Regions from separate parts of the Homo sapiens genome. Here region 2 is linked to region 1. The links come from fine-mapping of genetic effects on gene expression. A gene starts in region 1. The other region holds a variant in brackets. All regions are shown on one strand. Distances are between the middles of the regions.

The links. PIP is the estimated chance that this variant, and not a neighbour inherited with it, causes the effect.
Region 2: its variant is fine-mapped to the expression of TFB1M in whole blood (TOPMed, PIP above 0.99).

The regions. Positions count from the first base shown.
Region 1 is chr6:155,312,962-155,315,877 of GRCh38, forward strand. It overlaps TFB1M (transcription factor B1, mitochondrial), which reads right to left and starts at 1,523. Exons shown (of 7, transcript NM_016020.4): 1 at 1,335-1,523. The coding sequence starts at 1,467. RefSeq lists enhancers at 1,298-1,617, 1,616-2,606, 1,688-1,737, 2,288-2,337 and a silencer at 1,788-1,867.
Region 2 is chr6:155,255,614-155,258,492 of GRCh38, forward strand. TIAM2 (TIAM Rac1 associated GEF 2) reads left to right here. Exons shown (of 27, transcript NM_012454.4): 27 at 871-2,110. The coding sequence ends at 1,508. TFB1M (transcription factor B1, mitochondrial) reads right to left here. Exons shown (of 7, transcript NM_016020.4): 7 at 521-2,469. The coding sequence ends at 2,223. Among named protein-coding and RNA genes, the nearest start is that of CLDN20, 7.0 kb to the right of the region's middle. The variant A/C (reference allele first, on the strand shown) is at 1,542.

The DNA.
Region 1 (2,916 bases):
AAACTACTGGACATGGTGGCTCACACCTGTAATCCCAACACTTTGGAAGGCCGAGGCGAGTGGATCACTTGAGATCAGGAGTTTGAGACCAGCCTGAGCAACATAGTGAAACCCTGTCTTTACTAAAAACACAAAATTAGCTAGGCACGGTGGCTCACGCCTGTAATCCTAGCTACCTGGGAGGCTGAGGCACGAGAATCACTTGAACCGGGGAGGCGGAGGTTGCAGTGAGCTGAGATCATGCCATTGCACTCCAGCTTGGGCAACAAGAGTGAAACTCCATCTTAAAAAAAGAAAAAAAAAAAAAAGAGAAAACTTGAGTTAAATTATTTTATCCAAAGTCATATTGGTACAGGCAGAATAAAGACTACATGTCCAAGAAATAAAACATTTTATGTTTTCTGGAGTGTGCTTCATTTAAGTGAAAATGAACTTTTTGGGTGTGATTTACTGCTCTTTTCAACTTCTGAAGTGGGACTAAATAGAATGAAATATGAAAATCTCAAAACCTAAGTACTCCAGCCGTGACTTAGTAGACGTATTTGTAATATATTTTTGCAACCTCATCTCATAGAACATCACTAAGCAATGGTGATGGTGGTTAAACCAATATATAAATACATTCGTCAAAACTCATCAAATTGAGCACTTCAAACTTATTAATTTTATTGCACATAAATTATATCTCATAAAAAGTAACTTTAAACAATTAGGTGTGGGAATGTAAACTTGCTAAAAGTAAGCTCCTCGAGGAAACACCGCCTTGTTCACGCCCATATCCTACCCCCGGCACTAGCACAATGTTGCTTGTGTAATATGTACTTATGAATGAATATTAGCGCCCCCGAGGCTTAGACTGAACAGGTAAACGTTTAAAAAACGAATCATACGAGGGATACTCTTTTCACCAAGTTATTGATAAAATCCTCGCATCAATTTAAATTCTGGTAACTTTAAACTGCATGTAAAGCAACTGCAGTCAGCATGTGCTGTACTATTTCAGAATGATTGATTTCACAGTGACCCAGATTCCAATATTCACTAGCGCCTTTCACGACCCATGAACCCTTCCTCCCCTAGGGAGCTTGGCATTTATGCAGCCTGCCGGCAGGCTACACCCCCCCGAACGCGGAGTTTTGTGAGCAATCAACGCACTTCACGTGTCTCCTGGGCGGTGGGACCGGAGTTCTGATACAAAGAGGTCGAAGGACCTGACCAAAAGCCCGTCGCACGCCAGTGCCTGGACACCCGCCCGCGGGGACGTGCAAGACCCCCCGGCCCACGCCCCCACGGACACTGGGGAGACATCCGGGGAGCACTGCTAAGCCATCCACCTGTCAGCCTCAAGTCCAGGAGGAAATTCTGTGATAGCTGCTTCGCTGCTTGCAGTCTTAACAACTTAATGATTTCTCGAATCGTGGGCAACGGAGGGAGACGGCAAGTGCTGAGTTTTCCGGAGGCAGCCATGATACGCGGCAAGCACCATCCAACCCTACCTCACCCAGGACCTTCACCGCCGCTCCGAAAGAAACGCGCAGGGGAGGAACCTGCGAGACCTAAGGCCCGCCTCGGAGTCAGCCCCATTGGTCAGACCTATCCCACCGGAAGCGATGACCGCGGACAGGAAATTCCCGGCGTGCTGAGAGCGCATGCGCTAAGTCCTGCCGCGAGAAGGGCAGGCTGGGTGGTCGGCGGCTTCCGCCTGTGAGAGCCGGGGGAGAGCCGGGTGGACTAGGCTTCTCCTGGGCGGGCTATGGGGAGAGCGCCCAGGAGGGCGGGACGAGGCGGGGCCTGGACAGGGTGGGGTTTTTCGGAGGAGTTGCTCTGAGAGGTGCAGCCGGTTTACTCCCGCCCTGAAGTTCCCAAGGGCTTCCGGCTCTTTAACGTTCTAAATACCTGTCTGTGAATATTAGAGGAAAAGCGGGTGCTTAGAGGCAAAGCTACTGTTTGTTAGCAATTCTTTCTTACTGTGAGGCGTTTTTAGAACCGCCGCTCTGCAGATGCTGCATGATGGGTTTTTAACTTCGTTCAGCCTCAGTTTTTTCATCAGTTAAATGGAGCTAATGTCTACCTCAAAATTGTGAGCACTAAATGAGAGAGATCGCCTGGTGTGCACGTTCAGAACATAGTGCACGCATGGCATTGGGTAAGCTCCCACGTGATCAGTGGTGGCTGTTATTATTTGGCAGATGAATAATTGGCCAGTGTAAAGAGGTCATTCGATTTGCTAGGATTACAGCTAAGAACAGAGAGAAGACTGAAATATGAGTTCTGTCTTTCCGTTATACGAGATAAAAACAACGAAGCAAAAAAAAAAAAAAATTAAAGTTTCTCTGATAGGTGGGAGAATTTTGCTGTTTTAACCCTGCTTATGTTTGGACATTGCTGCGTTGATCACAAATGAATTTTAAAGTTTCTGTTCCTCAATTAGTAAGTTTTTAAAAAAGCTAATGGAAAACGAAACAACTATGGGTATGGATATAAAAATGAGGAGTACTTTGAAATTCCAGTGGAAAACTCAACCACCTTCTATAAAAGCTGTTTTAAAAGGAACTGAGATAATCTCCTAGCTTTAAAAAATAGTGATGACTACCATAGAGGTAAGGAGATTTGCCCAACGTGGCATCAAAATGTAGACTGGAAGTACAAACTCTTGATTCAGATATCTTATCGTCCAAAACACAGTATACCTGACAAAGCATTATTTCACAGTTATATTCATTATTTCCCGTACTCCTCACAATGGTCCCATGTGAATGAGATTATTATTCTTAGTTTGCTGTGAAGAAATAGGGGAGGTGAGGTCATTTGACAATGCCCAGAGTCAGACAGCAAAGTACAGAGAGAAGACAACCTGAGTTGTGTTTTTTCTGAGTTCTGATCTCACTGGCCACACTCAAGTATCAGCTTATTATT
Region 2 (2,879 bases), 57 kb before region 1:
AACTACACACACACACACACACACCTATAACATAAAATTTCAGAAAGTTGTTTTGAAATTCCAGCAGAGACAGTTCTCATATGAGAGATAAAGAGCATTTTCTAGGCTGGGCATGGTGGCTCATGCCTGTAATCCCAGCACTTTGGGAGGCCAAGGCAGGTGGATCCCTTGAGCTCTTGAGAACAGGAGTTTGAGACCAACCTGGGCAACATGGCAAAACCCCATCTCTACAAAAAAAATATAAAAATTAGCCAGGCGTGATCATGCGCACCTATAGTCCCAACTACTCAGGAGGCTGAGATGGGAGGATCACTTGAGCCCAGGAGGCGGAGGTTGCAGTGAGCAGAGATCACACCACTGCACTCCAGCCTGGGTGGCAGAGCAAGACACTGTCTTTAAAAAAAAAGGGGGGGGGAGGGGCATTTTCTACTTTTAATTGAGCAGCAAGGGAAATCCACAAGGTGAGAAGATGCATAGGAATATGGTGTGATCTTCATGATCAAATTACAAAGCACCTTAGTGAAAGAAAGGAGCCTAGATTTATTATTACCAATTAACTTTTCAACTTACTCCTTGGCAAAATAAGAATCTTAGCCCATGTAGTAGTTTCTAGTGTCTAGTTCTATTTACATAATTGAGCTCTGGTAATCTAAAAATGCTGAATTGCCTAACTTACAACTGTAAACCTAAGTCAAAAATGTCCATGTTTTCAGTAGCTACATTTTTGCCTAATTACCAGGATAGTTGCTAACTGAAGTCATATCATAAAATAAAATCTTAATGTTAAATCTTACACAAGCTTTGAGGCAAACATTACACATTGTGTAACCTGTTTCTGTATCACAGCGAAATGTGTTTTTCTCACTGTAGCTTCATCCAGGTCTTTAAAAGTCCTGAAGAATTCCTCCAGCAACGAGTGGACCGGTGAGACTGGCAAGGGAACCTTGCTGGACTCTGACGAGGGCAGCTTGAGCAGCGGCACCCAGAGCAGCGGCTGCCCCACGGCTGAGGGCAGGCAGGACTCCAAGAGCACTTCTCCCGGGAAATACCCACACCCCGGCTTGGCAGATTTTGCCGACAATCTCATCAAAGAGAGTGACATCCTGAGCGATGAAGATGATGACCACCGTCAGACTGTGAAGCAGGGCAGCCCTACTAAAGACATCGAAATTCAGTTCCAGAGACTGAGGATTTCCGAGGACCCAGACGTTCACCCCGAGGCTGAGCAGCAGCCTGGCCCGGAGTCGGGTGAGGGTCAGAAAGGAGGAGAGCAGCCCAAACTGGTCCGGGGGCACTTCTGCCCCATTAAACGAAAAGCCAACAGCACCAAGAGGGACAGAGGAACTTTGCTCAAGGCGCAGATCCGTCACCAGTCCCTTGACAGTCAGTCTGAAAATGCCACCATCGACCTAAATTCTGTTCTAGAGCGAGAATTCAGTGTCCAGAGTTTAACATCTGTTGTCAGTGAGGAGTGTTTTTATGAAACAGAGAGCCACGGAAAATCATAGTATGATTCAATCCAGATATGGGTTAAATTCCTC[A/C]TTTTACTTTTAAACTGGTGGTAAAGTGGAAATTGCAAAAAAAAAAAAAAAAAAAAACTGTTCATTCCTGGGTTTTGTGCAGTATACATTTTCCCACAAAATGGTTGTAAAGATTTAAGTTATTTTAATTTATTGTGGATCAGAAACCTAGATGAAACTGGTCAGAATCTGTAAATTACTTAGTTTATATCCACTTTGAGCAGGTATCAAATGATTTAGGATCCTTAAAATTACATTCTAATAATTAAGTTATGTGGAAAAAGTAAGGCTGGGGAAGTCGTGATTAATAGTTTTCAAAGGGCCATTTTTTAAAATCCTCTGGGCATTTTCTTTCAGCTGTTTGTTAGTTTTTGCTTTATTTAAAGCATATTTAAGTTATTTTAATGTGGTTTAGGGGCAAAATGTGCAGATACTTCATTTTTGTAAGATAGATTGTAATAGATGCTGTTTATACTAAACATGTCATAACTATCTATACAGTATATATTAAAAGAAAGCTTGTACTGTATCTTATTTGATGATATTTATTTTCTCTGCCAAGCTGTATAGTAAAAGGAAAATAAGTCACATCTGGTCATTGGCATTTGTATCGTCATTCTGTAAAGACAAAAGAGTACCTATATAAGAAGCTCCACGTAGTGCAAATCGACATCTGGTAGGCTGCTCGCCCCCAGGCAGCAGCTAGAGTCTGTAATTCTCTGCGTCATCCTCTTCTTTTTCTTCATTTTTGCTTTTTCTTCGCTTGAGTTCTTCTCTGAAATTATATGCAAAGAGTTGTGGGTCTTCATCACACATTTTTCTGTATACATCACAGAGGCTCTTAAAGTGTGAGATGGAGAGCTGGCGGGGCCGAAGAGTAGGGTCTATGTCTGCCAACTCTAACAGCCTGCCCGTGCTTTCCAAGCGCTGCGCTTCAGGGAATAACATTCTGAGGGGAAGACAGACAGACAGAAAAATAAGAATTTTACTTAAATTCTGCAAATCATGACACTTTTTAACCCTCATTTGAAAACAACACAACACAGTTGCTGGCTACTGACAGCTGGAGAGAGTGGCAGGAGCCTCTTGGATTATATAGCACCAGATAAGAGGCACGGCCCGCCACTGAGGCAGCTCTAACCTGAGGCGCGAGGCAAGCACACAATGGGAAAGCATTCTCCAAAGCTAAATCAGTACATGTACTTTTTAAAGGTAAGTAAGTAAGTTTAAAGTAACATCTGCTCAGCTGCATTCTTGTAGAAACATAAGCTTGATGTGCCTCATGTTTCAATGTGAAAGTTGTATTATTTCTTGTGTGACAAATCATCAGTTTTGATTCTCTAGAATTTGAATGTATCA